2 separate regions of the Homo sapiens genome follow, and region 2 is linked to region 1. The links come from fine-mapping of genetic effects on gene expression. Tissue or cell type: whole blood. Region 1 holds a variant in brackets; the other region holds the start of a gene. All regions are shown on one strand. Distances are between the middles of the regions.

What was found. PIP is the estimated chance that this variant, and not a neighbour inherited with it, causes the effect.
Region 2: CBX2 starts here. The variant in region 1 is fine-mapped to the expression of CBX2 in whole blood (TOPMed, PIP above 0.99).

Annotation. Positions count from the first base shown.
Region 1 is chr17:79,750,879-79,758,977 of GRCh38, forward strand. It overlaps LOC124904070 (a long non-coding RNA gene), which reads right to left. Exons shown (of 2, transcript XR_007065927.1): 1 at 7,964-8,099; 2 at 6,466-6,835. Among named protein-coding and RNA genes, the nearest start is that of CBX2, 23 kb to the right of the region's middle. The variant G/C (reference allele first, on the strand shown) is at 3,251.
Region 2 is chr17:79,774,749-79,782,834 of GRCh38, forward strand. It overlaps CBX2 (chromobox 2), which reads left to right and starts at 3,400. Exons shown (of 5, transcript NM_005189.3): 1 at 3,400-3,559; 2 at 3,636-3,679; 3 at 4,614-4,679; 4 at 6,948-7,053. The coding sequence starts at 3,488. RefSeq lists silencers at 3,205-3,584, 3,595-3,664 and an enhancer at 4,060-4,653.

The DNA of each region.
Region 1 (8,099 bases):
AATATCAATATTTGAGTCATAATTTAAATTTAAAATTTCCTGTGTAAACATATGACTCAGCAATTACACTCATGGGTATACACCCAAAATACTTGACAGCAGGTGTTCAAACAAAAACTTGCACACAGATGTAACAAGCAGCATCATTCACACTCACCAAAAGGTAGAAACAAAACAAATGTCCATCAAAGATGAATGGACAAACAAAATGTGGTCTATCTATATAATGGAATACTATTTGGCCATGAAAAGGAACAAAGTACTTAGCCGGGCATGGTGGCTTATGCCTGTAATCCCAGCACTTTGAAAGGCACAGGTGGGAAGATTGATTGAGCCCAGGAGTTCAAGACCAACCTGGGAAACATAGCAAGACCCCGTTTCTACAAGCAGAAAAAACAATTAGCCAGGTGTGGTTGTGCACAACTATAGTTCCAGCTACTTGGGAGGCTGAGGTGGGAGGATCTCTTGAGCCCCGGAGGTCAAGGCTGCAGTAAACTATGATTGCACCACTGCACTCCAACCTGGGTGACAGAGCGACACGCTGTCTCAAAAAAAAAAAGGAATGAAGTACTGATACATACTTTAATATGAATGGACCGTGAAAAACATGCTCAGTGAAAGAATTCAGACATAAAAGGCCACATATTACACGATTCCACTTATAGGAAATATCCAGAATAGGTAACTCCATAGACAAAAAGGAGATGGGAGGTGGCCAGGGGCTGGGGGAGGAGGGTGGGAAGTGACTGCCTAATGGATTTCTTTTTGGTATAATAAAGACGCTTTGGAGCTAGATGGTGGTGATGGCTGTATAACATTGTAAATGGACTAAGTGCCACTGTTAAATGGCTAAAATAGTAAATGTTATGTGCATTTTTTTTTTTTGAGACAGAGCCTCCCTCTGTCTCCCAGGCTGCAGTGCAGTGGCGCAATCTCAGCTCACTGCAACCTTCACCTCCTGGGTTCAAGTGATTCTCCTGCCTCAGCCTCCCTAGTAGTTGGGATTACAGGCTCACACCACCACGCCCAGCTAACCTTTGTATTTTTAGTAGAGACGGGGTTTCACCATGTTGGCTAGTCTGGTCTCAAACTCCTGACCTCAGGTGATCTGCCAGTCTCAGCCTCTCAAAGTGCTGGGATTACAGGCATGAGCTACTGTGCCTGGCCCTGTTATGTGTGTCTTACCACAACTAAAAGAAAACAGATTCTGGGGCCACATCTTAAAAAAAAAAAAAATAGTGGAAGGCAGATAATGACCATGTTTCAGACAGGGTTTGCCCAGTGGCTTCCACAGAGCTGTCCCATCTTTGGGGTGGTTAATAAAAGCTTCTGTTGGGAGACTCAGAGGGAAGGGCTGGGTGAAGCGAGCCTGACTTGTCCTCACCTGAGATCCATCAGCTCCCACCAGAGCCCGGCAGGAGCCCGGACTCCTTGGTCGGAGAAGCACGGAGAAGGTGGCCAAGGGCACCGCAGAGAGCCCCAGCAAACTTCCCCTTCGGGTTTTTCTGGGCCCCAGCTGTGGGCCGTCAACCAAACTTTGTGAATCGACACTGGTGACTCGACATGGAAAATGACTCTCCGTCATCCGATTCAAACGTCATCAGATTGCTTTTGGTGTGGGAAGCAGAGCACACCTTAACAAACACCTCCCCAGCTGTCCCTTTTAATAAAATACACAGGTTGAATGTATTTCCAATTCTGGAATTAATCAGGGAAGTGGGTGGTTTTTTTTTTTTTTTTGAGATGGAGTCTCGCTCTGTCGCCCAGGCTAGACTGCAGTGGCACTATCTCAGCTCACTGCAAGCTCCGCCTCCCGGGTTCACGCCATTCTCCTGCCTCAGCCTCCCCAGAAGCTGGGACTACAGGCGCCCACCACCACGCCCGGCTGATTTTTTTGTATTTTTAGTAGAGACGGGGTTTCACCGTGGTCTCGATCTCCTGACCTCGTGATCCGCCCGCCTCGGCCTCCCAAAGTGCTGGGATTACAGGCGTGAGCCACCGCGCCCGGCCGGAAGTGGGTTTTTTAATCACCAGCTCTCGGGAGAAACACATTCTGGAGAGCAAAAGGCAAGAACCAACCTTTTCAACAAACCAACCTGCGGAGAAACCCCTCTGCGAGTCCAGTGTTGTAAATGAAAATGTTACCAGGCCGGGTGCGGTGGCTCACACCTGTAATCCCAGCACTTTGAGAGGCCGAGGTGGGTGCATCATCTGAGGTCAGGAGTTCGAGACCAGCCTGACCAATACGGTGAAACCCTGTCTCTACTAAAAATACAGAAATTAGCCGGGCGTGGTGGCAGGCGCCTGTAGTCCCAGCTACTCAGGAGGCTGAGGTGGGAGAATTGCTTGAACCCGGGAGGCGGAGCTTTCAGTGAGCCGAGATCACGCCACCGCACTCCAGCCTGGGCAATCGAGCAAGAGTCTGCCTCAAAAAAAAAAAAAAAAAAAGAAAGAAAGAAAAAGAAAAAGAAAAGAAAACGTTAGCTACACACACAGCTTAGGGGCGGCTCCCTGAAATTTGTAACTGTTTAGCCCCGGGTGTGTCTGTCCAGGATGGGTCATGTCTTTCAAGCTGCACATGCCCACAGGAGAGCTCACCCCCAAAATGCTGCAGCTGTCACAAGGTTGCCTCTTGTTCATTTGGTTCTTAACATGGTTGTTCTTCGGACTTTGATAAAGAATGAATGGTTTTGGCTGGGCGCAGTGGCTCACACCTATAATCCTAGACCTTTGGGAGGCTGAGGGGGGAGGATCGCTTGAGTCCAGGAGTTTGAGACCAACCTGACCAACATGACAAAACCCCATCTCAACTAAAAATACAAAAAAAGTAGCCAGGCATAGTGGCGGGTGGCTGTAATTCCAGCTACTCGGGACACTGAGGCACGAGAAACGTTTGAACCTGGAAGGTGGAGGTTGCAGTCAGGTGAGATGGTGCCACTGCACTCCAGCCTGGGTGACAGAGGGAGACTTTCTCTCAAAAAAAAAAAAAAAAAAAGAATTAATGGAAATGGTTTTGGCGGAGTGCAGTGGCTCACACCTGTAATCCCAGCACTTTGGGAGGCCAAGTAGGGAGGGTCACTTGAGTCCAGGAGTTCAAGACCAGCCTAGACAATGTAGAGAAACCACATCTCTACAAAAAAATTTTTTTAATTAGCCAGGCGTGATGGTGCGCACCTGTGGTCCCAGCTACTTGGGAAGCTGAGGTGGGAGAATTGCTTGAGCCTGGGAGTTCAAGGCTGCTGTGAGCCAT[G/C]ATGGCACCACTGCACTCCAGCCTGTCTCAAAAAATAATAATGAATAGAAAAAGAATTAATGTTTTCCATTTATATCGTTTTCAAAAGAGGTTTGCTCCTCTCATATGAAACTGAGACAGTCAATTCTGCAAAGAAATTCAAATGGCCAGTAAAGCATAGGAAAAGATGTTCATCCTTTCTAAAGAACCAAAAGTTCCAACAACAATCAGATGCTATTTGGATCTAATGATTGTTTTTGAAGGCAATACTTGAGGCTGGGGCCCTGCCACCGCCCACCCAGAATGAGACCCATTAATCATCATCACCCAGGGCTTACTCTTTCTTTTTCGTTATTGGTTTTCACGTCCAGCTTTGCCATTGATCATACACGAGACCTGGGGCAAATCATTCACTCCCTCTGTGCCGAGTTTTCTCTTTGTTCAGCTGAGGAGCTCCACGTGGTATTTGCACTGTAGAGTGGGCAAGGCCCTCTGCTATTCCGTAGGCTGAGTGGGGCCCCGTCCTGCTACAGTGACCCAAAGGCAATTGTGAACACAAGACAAAAGCGTTACGTATTTTGTGTTGTTTTCATCTGTTCCTGCTGCTGTCACAAAACACCGCAGACTGCGTGATTTATAAGTAATAGAGATTTATTTCTCACAGTTCTGAAGCTGGGAAGTCCAAGGTCAAGGATCTCCGCTTCCCAGATGGCACCTCGTTGCCACATCCTCCAGAGGGGTAAAATGCTGTGTCCTCACATGGAGGAAGGGAAGCCCTTTTATAATAAGGCTCTAATCCTGCCAGGCACGGGGGCTTATGCCCGTAATCCCAGCACTTTGGGAGGCTGAGGCAGACAGATCACTTGAACTCAGGAACTCAACACCAGCCTGGGCAACATGGCTAAAACCTGTCTCTACAAAAAATTTAAAAATTAACCAGGTGTGGTGGTGTACACCTGTGGTCCCAGCTACTCGGGAGGCTGAGGAGGGAGGATCACTTGAACCCAGGAGGTGGAGGTTGCAGTGAGCCAAGATTGTGCCATTGAACACCAGCTTGGGCAACACAGCAAAATCCCATCTCAAGGCCACGCGTGGTGGCTCACGCCTCCCAGCACTTTGGGAGGCCAAGGTGGGTGGATCACTCGAGGTCAAGAGTTCGAGACCAGTCTGGACAACATGGTGAAACCCCCGTCTCTACTAAAAGTACAAAAAAGTTAGCCGGGCGTGGTGGCAGGACCTGTAATCCCAGCTACTTGAGAGGCTGAGGCAGGAGAATTGCTTGAACCCAGCAGGTGGAGGTTGCTGTGAGCCAAGATCACGCCACTGCACTCCAGCCTGGGCGACAAGAGTGAGACTCTGTCTCAAAAAAATAAATAAATAAATAATACAAATCTCATCTCAAAATAAAATAATATAATATATGAGGCTCTAATCCCTCCCCGGAGGGCAGAGCCATTACGGCCTTCTCACTCCTCAGTACTGTTGCACTGGGGATTAAGTTTCAACGTGAATTTTGGAGGGACACAAACATTCAAACCACAGTTAAGTGTTGACAGTGTCCTGAGGCGACAGGTCCTTGCTTCCCTCTCGTCCATGTTGATGATCAGGCGACCCGCTGGATTGGTTTCCTGCGGCTGCTCTGAGAAAGCACCACAGACTGAGGGCGTTGAGCCACCCAGGTGTGTTCCCTCGCAGGTGTGGAGGCCAGAAGTCCAATCCAGAGAGGCCGTGCTCACTCTGCAGGCTCTGCAGAGGTCCCGTCCTTGCCTCTCCCAGCTGCTGTGGACGCCAGTGATTTTGTTTCATGTTTTTGTTTTTGTTTTTTTGAGACAGAGTTTCACGCTTGTGGTGCAGGCTGGAGTGCAGTGGCGCCATCTCGGCTCACTGCAACCTCCACCTCCCGGGTTCAAGCGATTCTTCTGCCTCAGCCTCCTGAGTAGCTGGTGTTACAGGTGCCCGCCACCACGCCTGACTAATTTTTGTATTTTTAGTAGAGATGGGGTTTCACCATGTTGGCCAGGCTGGTCTCAAACTCCTGACCTCAGGTGATTCATCCATCTCGGCCTCCCAAAGTGCTGGGATGACAAGCGTGAGCCACCGCGCCCAGCCGGGACACCAGTGATTTTGGCCCACGCCTTCCTGTGTGCTGCTCGGTATGAAGGAAAGCCCTTTCCCTGAAACCCAGAGACCCTCCACCTGCTTTTATTTTTCACTTTTGATAGAGACACAGGTAGTGGAAATAGTTTGCTTTCTTCTTAACTATAAGAAAAGCAACAGCATAAACACAGTTACAAACAGTGGTCAACCTCTGGTCTCAGTGCTGAGTGACCCTAGAGAGTGCTGGGATCTGTGGCAGGAATGAGAGGCTGGTGAGGAAGCCGCCTATCCTCATGTGTCGACCAGCCCAGGGTGGCCCGATGACCCTGTTTTTGTTTTTGTTTTTTTTGAGACAGTTTTGCTCTCGTTGCCCAGGCTGGAGTGCAGTGACACCATCTCGGTTCACTGCAACCTCCGCCTCCCGGGTTCAAGCGATTCTCCTGCCTCAGCCTCCTGAGTAGCTGGGACTACAGGCGCGTGCCACCACGCCCAGCTAATTTTTGTATTTTTAGTAGAGATGGGGGTTTCACCATGTTCGCCAAGGGGTGAACAGGCTAGGTGTGCCCAGGGCACTTCATCCCATCTGCTCAGCCACACCAAACCCAGAGATTCAGGGTGCAACCTGTGGTGATCTCGAAGTGAAAATATTTCCCTTGGATTATCTCATAACATTTCACAGTGGAACTAGAAGGAGGATGTTGAGGCATAAATGAAGCCAAAGGCTTAATTGGAGGGATGTGGAAAGGCAACGGAGAGGCCGCAGCATGGTTGTGTGGAAGAAGGGCTTCAGCGTTGTTGAGTTTCAATTGCAAAGCCACCTGGAAGCAGATGGGGAAAGCCTCTCCATGCAGGAGAAAGAACAGTAAAAGTTCCCAAGAAAATGTTCTCGAGAGCCTCAGCCCCAAACGCAAAGTGCTCAAAGAGCTGCCACTGATGCCCAATATCAGGCCAGCCCAGCCTAGAATAAGGACATCAAACACATTGGAGAAGGGAAGGATAGAAGCTGTTCCCCATCATCCCCCAGGCCCCATCCTGGGAGCCCCGTCACCAACCACCTTTCTCTTTAGTCCTCAGCTGGCCTCGATATTGTCACCAAGTAAACTTTGGGGTCAACAAACATGGGTAGGAACCAACATTAGCACGGTCAGCAAATGCGCCCCTGCTCCAGTAGCTGGGTCTTTATATTGTATCAGGAATCCTCCTGGTCCACCTCCCCCTCACCCATTCCTTCTACTCAACCAAGCTCCCGTACCACGCCACCCCCACCCCTCTTCATCGGCCAAGCTCTCCCCCACCTCCCAAAGGCAGACACAACCTCATCTCAGCTCGCCACCGTCCGCCAGGGGAGACTGACACACATTGACCGCTCCCCGTGCCACCTCTGCTGTGCACTAATGCATTCGCCTAATTTCCAGTAGTCAGTGACATTTCACTGTGGAGGCAGAGGTTTCCACTCACGCCAACTCAAGTCACTGCAGCCTTCATGGAGCTCAGGCAGGATTCGAGGCCCTAAAGAGGGGTGGTAAATAGTGAAGGAGGTTACAGGCACAAGGCAGAGAAATGATGGTGCCTTCCCATTCCAGGTTTACTTTTTTCTAAAGCATTTACTAAAACTAAATTGGAACATCTAAGTTGGTGATTGCATGATTGAGATATTGGAGCAAAAGAACAGCTTGGTTGATAGTTGAGTTTTCACATGGACAGTAGAATCACCGACGTTTTGCTGTAGGTATAAAATGATTTCCAGGCTGGGCAAGGTGGCTCATGCCTGTAATCCCAGCATTTTGGGAGGCTGAGGCAGGCAGATCACTTGAGGTCAGGAGTTCGAGACCAGCCTGGCCAACATAGTGAAACCCTGTCTCTACTAAAAAAAAAAATACAAAAATCAGCCAGGTGCGGTGGCACCCACCTGTAGTCTCAGCTACTGGGGAGGCTGAGGTGGGAGGAACACTTGAGCCCAGGAGGCAGAGGTGGCAATGAGCCAAGATCAAGCCACTGCATTCCAGCCTTGGTGGCAGCGGGAGACTACATCTCAAAAAAAAAAAAAAAGATTTCCAGCCGGGCGCAGTGGCTCACACTTGCAATTCCAACACTTTGGGAGGCCAAGGCAGGTGAATTGTTTGAGCCCAAGAGTTTGAGATCAGCCTAGGCAACATAGCAAGACTCCGTCTCTACAAAAAATACAAAAATTAGCCATGTGTGGTGGCACACATCTGCAGTCCCAGAGACTCAAACTACAAGTGGGAGGATCGCTTAAACCTGGAAGTGGGAAGCTGCAGTGAGCCGTGATCATGCCACTGCACTCCAGCCTGGGCAACAGAGTGAAACGCTGTCTCAAAACACAAAAAAAATTATTTCCTTCTCAAGCCTTCCAAATACCTGGTCTTAGCGCCTTTAATATACAACGAATGCTTACAAATACAACAGAAAAAGATGAGTAACCTAATACAATGGATAAATGATTTGGATAATATATTCAGACAATTCTCAAAAGAAGTATGCAAATAGCCAAGATGTCAGCCTCAATCGTAATGAAAGAAAATAAATCAAATGGAGTTGTAGTTTTCATCTTGTGGCATCTTTTAAAGCTTGATAAAAGCTACTGCTGATAAGAAATGGAAATAACAGGCCTCTCACCTCATGTCAATGTGCCTGGGCACAAGCAGAAGCTTCTGGAAGGGCAATTTGGCTTCATCCATCAAAATGTTAGGGCAGGTGTGAGGGCTCATGCCTGTCATCCCAGCACTTTGGGAGGCTGAGGCAGGAGGATCGC
Region 2 (8,086 bases), 24 kb after region 1:
GCCTCATGTGCACAGCGAGGGATTGGGCAGGCTGCCCTTTGTAAGAAGTGTTCTAAACGCTGAGAGCCCTGGGCTGCCTCTGGCTTGTCCTGGGTCAGAATCCAGGGGCGGACATGTGCATCGTGTGCCCAGGGGTCCTTAGGCAAACTGAAAGCTTGAGGGATCCTGCAAGTGCCTGAACTGTGCTTATTTTTACTTGAGTTCTGATACACAAACACGGTCTGTCCCGCATATGTAATATTCACATATTACATACACAGAAACGGCGTGACATTAACACAGCTAGCCTGTAAGTCACACCTTAGTCTTGCAAATGTGCAGAGGAGCTGGGGGCAAATTACGACATGAGATATTAAATGTGATGTAAATGTGTGATGTATTCTAAATCCTGAGTGTATCCCATGCAGACCGGCTGGTGGTGGTGTCTGGTTCCTCCTTTTAGCCAACACCGCTGATGGCAGTAGGGAGACAGTGCTTTTAGAAAATCTAAGAGCTGTTTGAAAGTATTTGGTTAAGAAGTAACTACTGTTACCTAGTTACAGCTGCCAAATCCAGGGTCACTGGATTGATCTCAATTCCTGACTTTTCCATTGACTTCAGAGTGAGACATTCTTTGCTTTGGCATCTGTAATTTTCGATCCACAAGCATAGCGTGAAAATACTTATGCTTTCTTAGTAGCATTTCAGACACGAATAAGTTAATACTTGTCCTTATCACTTGCGTAGAAAGGAAATCAGTACTATACAAAGTCTGTACTCCCTGAATGTCTTCCTCTGTGCCTGGATTTTTAATATCTTTTTTGTATGTGTTTTAAACATTCTTGTATATAATTAAGCATAACTGTGAGTGTAGGTAAACTATTCATATTCCAGGATTAATTTATGTAACCGTATTACTTTCATTTAAAATATGTTTAAAGCAGATCCCTCTCATTCCTGTGGACCTGCAAAGTGTCCAGTACAGTGACCACCAGCTACATGTGGCTACTCCCACTGAAATGAATTAAAGTGAAATACAATTTAAAATTCGAGCCTTCAGTGGCACTAGCCACACTGCCAGTGCTCAGCAGTCCCAGGTGCCTAACGGCCACCACACTGGACGCAGTGGAGGGAGGCTCTGTCCATCCACTTCCATCACCCACAGATGGAGCTGCTGCTACGGTCTTATACTACTGGATATCTAGTAGTGCCCACATGATAGTACATACTAACTATCTGTCGAATGAATAATACAATAATTAGTTTTAACTTGTCTTAATAATTCTTAAAATGTGACAGTCAAAACGGAAGACGTCCGCTTGTTTTACACAGTTGGATTAGCTGGGGGTTATTCTTCCCTTCTGCCTATTCCCAGCTTTGTTTTTAGGGAACGTGCCACAGATTTTGGATCACACGTTCACAGAATGTATCTGATTATTTCATTCTGGCCAAATCTGTCATATTTGTTTCTCCAAATGAATTATCTAAATATTATTTTACCCAAACTGTTTGCAGTTGGGTAGATGATGTACATGTTAAACCTTCCTGGACGCTGATTTATTTTTTTCAATGTGTTAGTATCAAATTCTAGCAAATTTATTTCTTAAGCAAAGAAATCATTCCCTTTTCAAAGCCTTCTTTTCTTTAAAAAGAAATCAAGCAAGTATCCCAGCATACCATGAGTCAAAGAGGAAACTGGAAACTTCCAGGGCAAAATCTTAGACCCAAGATGAATTCTGCAAGGAAACGTGATGTGAAACTGATCCAGCTATTTGTAGGATTACAATAAATACACCTTTGCCCTCAACTCCACAATTTACTGCCAAGCTGCACAAGACAGGGATACAAAAGGAGCCGGCGGAGACACTGTTAGCGGATCCCTTCACTCCAGAGGCCAGTTTTATCCCAACACAAGGATTCTTTACTGCCTCTGCCCCTGAGTAAACAAACACCTTCCCCCCAAGGACATTTCCCTTTCTCCTGCCCTCTTTGCAAACAACATCTGAATTTGCACGTACTCTCCAGGAAATCAAATGAATGTAACCTATCTAACCAAAGAAACTGAAGAACACGCCATAAATTGAAAGATCGGTTCCTACAGTTCAGTATTTTCTCCAGTAGGCCTTTCTGTAAAAACAAAAAAACACATTTCTCCTGCAGAACCCTTTATAAATATGGTTTTGATGATCACAATTACATTGAGACAGTCTCCTACAACAAGAAACGACTTTTGGATCTGCTCAACAGAAAGAGAATTTTGCAGCTGTGTTCAAGGAAGCAAGAAAAGCAGAGAGTGAATTTTCATGGAGTTAGACTGCGTTGAGACGAATGAAGCTAAGGCTCAGGTCTCTTTCATTACGTGTTTGACTTGTCCTGATTCAAAATCTAAATAACTTAAAGGGTGATTCTTCATGGAATTCGAATCTTAACACCGGAATAAAAGGGTAGCCTGCTGACGACGATCACAGGGAGGACAAGGGGTCACCCCCACTTTCATAACATGGCCTGACCCTTTTCTGCCGCGGACAATTGATCCGAAGGACGCCGGCTGCCCAGCCCTGGCGGGCCACTACTGACCTAGTCCGAAGTTAGGAACAGCCTTGCAAACCGCCCCCTCCCCCTCCATTTCATCAAAATCGGGGAACAAATTCAGAAAAGGTGCAGCTGGTTTTCTCCCTACACGTGCCCTAAAACTCGGGGGCTGGATCCACTTTTCATAGCTGTTTAATAAGAACTCCGGGCAGTTCGTATTACTTCTTTCTCAGAGTGCTTGGTGGTTTAAGTTAAAGCATTTTCCTCTCTCGCCTTTGGGGGAAAAAGCCTCGGCTGCTGGGGTTTGTGGGCCCCTCCCCCGGACTTCGTCTTCCTTTCCTTCCCCAGCCCCCGACCCGTTTTGCTCTCGTCCAAAACAGAGCGACTCCCCCGCTGCCGAGGAAAAGCCAGTTCAAGAAGCCGGGGGAAGGGTGGGGCCCCGCGTGCCCCGGAGCAGCGCCCCTCGAAGGCGGGGGCAGGAAGCAGCCGCCGCGCCCCGTCCCGCTTCCCTCCCTTCGGGCCAGAACAATGGCTTTTTGCCCGGAAAACGGAGTTGGGAGCAAGGGCGGGCGCGCCCCGGGAATCACGCGGGACTCGGTGGGCGCCCCAGGCCCGAAGTCCCTAGGCACCTCCTCCCCCAGCCAGGGGCCCGCCCGCGCCCCCACCCCCGCCCCCGCCCCCGCCCGGGGCCCCGCGCGGGACCCCCCGCCGGAGCGCGAGGCCCAGCCCGCCGCGGACAATGCGCGCCCCGCCCCGCCCCGCACCCGCCCCCCCTCGCTGATTGGCCCGCACGGGATTTGGGCAGCGCGCGGGGGCGGGCGGCGGGCCGGGGCGCGGGCGCGGAGCGGCGGTGCGCGTGCGCGGGGCGGGCCGGCGCCGGGCGGGGGCGGTGCTTTGTGTGCTGCCGGCGGGGCGCGCGGCGGTCCGGGCGGGTGACTGGCGGCGGGCGCCGCGGTCGGGCTGGCTGCCGGGCAGCATGGAGGAGCTGAGCAGCGTGGGCGAGCAGGTCTTCGCCGCCGAGTGCATCCTGAGCAAGCGGCTCCGCAAGGTGCGTGCGGCCCGCCGGGCCCCCCGCCCGCCGCCCGCTGTCCGTCTGGCTCACGGCCCCTCTTCTCTCCCCGCAGGGCAAGCTGGAGTACCTGGTCAAGTGGCGCGGCTGGTCCTCCAAGTGAGTCCCCCGCGACGCCGCGCCCCCCTCCCGCCCCCTCGCCCGGGGGTGGGGACGTGGAGCCCCTCGGCCGCGCCGTCCGGTGGCCTGGGGGCGCCCGCGGGCAGAGCGGGAAGTTCGCGGGGTCCCCGCGGGCTCCTCCGGCTCTGAGGGGGGCGGGGGCCGCCCGGCCCGAGGTTGCCCTTTGTTTACACGCCCGCGGGTGCAGAGCTGGGCGGCCCCCCGCGCCAGAACCTCCTCGGCTGCCGCGCCGCGCTCCCCCCAACCCCCGTCCCGGCCGGGAGGGAGGCGCGGGATGCAAGCCCCCCTCCTCTTGGCCAGATTCTCCCCGCTGTAACCTGAGCTTGCTATTGATGGATGTAGAGTTTCTTTTTTTTTTTCTTTCTTTTAATGGAAGGGAGGGTGTTTGGCATCCCCGGAAGGGGCTCTCTGCACAGCTGCTCCCGCGGCCCCGTTTCTGCGTCTTCCCGGACCCCGCTCTTTCTTCGCTACCCCTCGAGGTGCCCCGGCCCGCGCGCCACATTGTTCTGGATCTCGGGCTGGGCGCCTGTGCCCCTCCCTGCATGCTGGACCTGCCTTCCCTTCCTCCTCTGGCTCCGGGCCAGGGTTTGGGGGAATCCCTCTCTGCAACTTTGCGTTTTATGGGGGTTTGTTTTTCTCCCAGGCAGAGACTGTGGGAGTCCTCTTGTGGCCTTGTTTTAATTGGGGGGTTGGAGCGGCAGTTTCCCTTTGGGTCTGAGGTTAGAGTGCTGGCTTGGTGGGGGGTGGCCAGCCTCCAAAACCTGGGTTTGGACTTTGAGAAGTGCCATGGTGCTACGGTGCCACTGCCATCGGCCCAAGTCGAGGAGCGGTGAGGGCGAGCCCCCTCGGGCTGCCTTGCAAAGCGGTGATCATCAGCCTGGCGTCTAATGCTGCCCTGTCCTCTGCTTTGCAGACATAACAGCTGGGAGCCGGAGGAGAACATCCTGGACCCGAGGCTGCTCCTGGCCTTCCAGAAGAAGTGAGGACGCTGACAGCACTGGGGAGGGTGTGGGGGAGGGACGGTGGCTGGTTGGAGTCGTGCTGGGCGCTGCTCGCCTGCCGGGAGGCTGGAGCTGGGGCTGTGGTCTGAGGTCCCTTAGCAAGATTGTGTCCAGGGCCATCTCTGTGGCTGGCTGTAAAAGTCCCCAGCCAGCCCCTCTCCCACCTTCTCCTAGCCAGCCTGTATCCATCCCTGAGAAGAACCTAAGTAAGTGCTGCTTTGGTGTTTCCGACAGCCATACTTGCAAAAACCAACTTTTTCAGTTGCTTCAGATAAAGATGTTATAGCTTCTCTTGGCCTTTTCTGCTGAGTAATTTGCACATGGCGCTAACAGAAAACCAGGAGAGCAGGTTTGCCACAGTGACGCAGGTCTGCCCTTCCAGCCCTGCACGCGTGTGCCATCAGGCAAGAAGGCTCAGAGAGGGAGCTGGAACACACAGCACGCAGTTGTGCCTATTGTGATGTCTCTCTCAAGAAAGAAACATTTATTTTGCTCTGGCCTGCAGCATACAGTACCAAGTAGCACCATGAGGCCGGATTGGGCCAGACTTGTTTCTGTAATTCTAGATGTCATTTCTATTTTTAGGTAGGAAGTTTAGGTTAAGAGATAGGCCTCCTTGAGATGTTCAAGGGCAAGGGGTGGTGAGGAGAGGGCAGTGGATGTGCCCACCTGGCATGAAGGGCCAGGGAGTACTGTTCAAGCAATGGCAAGATGGGGGGTGGTTTCACTGACGGCTCCCCCTGGATCCCCTGGCTGGACTTGCCCTGTGGATAGAGGCAGAAGAATTGGTTGCTGGAGTCTTTCCCAGCCAGGGTCAATCTGGACGGTTTGTTCTCTGGTAGCAAAAGGTGCATTCCCTTTTTTCCACTGTAGCGGGACATATTGGGTCTTCCCAGAGGGGTCATGATAATGGGGAAATAGAGTTTTCTGGTGGGGCGAGCAAAAAGAAGAGCCTGTGCTTGCTTAAATCCCTTTGGAAAATCGTAACAGCAACCCATCGTCTTCTGTTAGTTCCTGTCTGGGTGCTGTGAGCCTTGGGGTGGGGGAATGGCTTGGCCCACTTCAGAGGCTGGTGCGCTTCTCTGGATCTAAGACGGTGTCCTAACTGTTGAGAGAGATTGTGGTTTTGGTTAGAGCAGAAACACCTGAGATAAGAAGAGTGTAAAACCCATGGGTGGCTTGGATGACATCGTGGAAGAAAGAAAACAGAGAAGGTGGGACAGCCTTCTCCATCCACCAAAATGTTAGCTCTCTCTGGGCACTAGGAGCTGGCGGTTACCTGCTTGGTATTGGAGGGGGTGGGGGTATGGCCCTTGGCGACGCACAGGATCACAGCAGTCAGTGCACAGGTTAATATTTCAGCGGAGGAGATCCATGCAACACTTCATTGTCCTTTTAGGAGATTTCAGGTTAAGGACCAGCACTTAAGAGTATGAACTTTGCCTGGTACTAATCAGAACTGTGTTGAGGAGGTTGCCTTCCAGGCCCCAATGAGATGATGTTTGCCCAGATAATTACCAGGGCCCCTTTTCTGAAATACAGGCTTTCCCTGGGGGCTGGAGGTTCTGCTAGCACTTCATGACCCTGGAGGTGTGGAGGCTCTTCTGGGGGCGGGGGGGGTACTGCGAGTGGTGCGTGCATTGAGCCTTGCCTGCCTCAGACCTCGGCACCTCTGTCATCTCCCTCAAGAGTAGAGTTTAGGAACAGAGAGGTATTTTTAAAAAGGAAACAAGGAGAGTCATGTGCCAGCAGCCAGGCTCTGCGAGGGCTGGAGGACAGGGCCCACGGTGCTCCTTGCCCGGGTGAGGGTTTTATGCACCAGAAGCTGCCCAGGGGATTGGTGGCATCTCCTTGTCCTGGGCTTCCTTCTCCTATTGAAAGTAAGGAGGTTGGACCGTGTGGCCACCGAGGCCACTTCTGGTTAGAATATGCTAGAATTTCCATGCAGCAGTGCACCTGCAGGAAGCTGTCTTAAGTCAGAGAATACTGGGGCGTCATTGTTTTCCCAGCGTTGCTTTCCTGTCTTCAGCTTGTCCTTAGCCAAATGAAATGGGATGGCTGGTTACTGACCCTAGTGCAAAGAATGGGGTCTGATCTCTGCCTTGGGTATTTGATGATGTGTTTGCGGCAAACAGGATAAGCTATTACAGGCCAACAGGAATAGGGTGCTGGAAGCCATAGAGTCCCACATGGTAGAAGGGGTACGCACAGGGCTTCTCCCCCATTAACTAGTGGTGTGCCTTCAGGGAACATGAGAAGGAGGTGCAGAACCGGAAGAGAGGCAAGAGGCCGAGAGGCCGGCCAAGGAAGCTCACTGCCATGTCCTCCTGCAGCCGGCGCTCCAAGCTCAAGGTGGGTGGCTGCGCTGGGTATGCTGACCCCACCTCCCAGCACCCCCTTGGCGTAGGGGGCAGGCAGAGGGAGGGTTTGGGGCCCTCAGGAAGGGGGTGGCACTTCTGCCAACAGTCTGTCCCTCTACTCGGAAAACAGGAGCCCCCTTTCTTCCTGTCTCTCAGCTTCTGCTGCCAGGGGCCCCAGCCGGCTGAGAGTTCCTCCCCGCCCCTCCCAGGGGCTTCCTGCTTCAGCCTGTCCTGCACGCCTCTCTGCTGGGTGGCAGGGTCAAACTGCTGCAGACAAGCACTCTTCCCTCCCAGGGGGTCCTTGGGGGACGGAAAGGAACAGGAAGCATGCGTACAGTAGGTGCTCATAGGATTGCCGGCTGGATGTGACTCAAAAGCCTAAGATTTGGGGGCTACTCCGGGCCCACCTGCGGGTGCACCTTAAATCGAGGTGGCCACGAAAGGCAGGGCTGACTGAATAGCCAGGGGGTGCCAGGAGGGGCCTTGGAGGAGGGCAGAGGCAGTGTGGGCTGATGATGTGCTTTGGCCTTCTCGGGACTGTCCTGTCACCCCTCCTCGCTACAGTGATGGGCTCACCCCGCCACAGGTATGCATGCGCCCCTGGGGTCCGTGGTAGGGCCCCTCCCTCCCCTGAGGACAGGTGAGGCAGGACAGGATGGGGGAGGAGGGCCTGGCCTCAGTCCCGGGTGTGGCTTTGATTCCCTCCTCCGGGCACTGTCCCTGGACCTTCGCGTGTTGTGGCCACGAGCTCAGTCACTAACTGAACCTGCCTTTCCAGGAGGATTTCCTGAATGAACAGGATTCCCTGCTGTAGAATCTTGTTGGCTGGTCTACACTGGCCTTACGTTATCTTGAAAATCTTCCTTTTGAGCAGGATTGTGGGGGCTGCAGGAGTTCTGCTGACTGAGGAGTGGCCACAAGGCAGTGATTGATGCCTTGTTTGAGGAGGTTTGAGGAGATCACTCCTGTTGAAGTTGGGAGAACGGGGTGGTAGGGAGGCGGTGTTGGATCTGACTCCTAAAGCA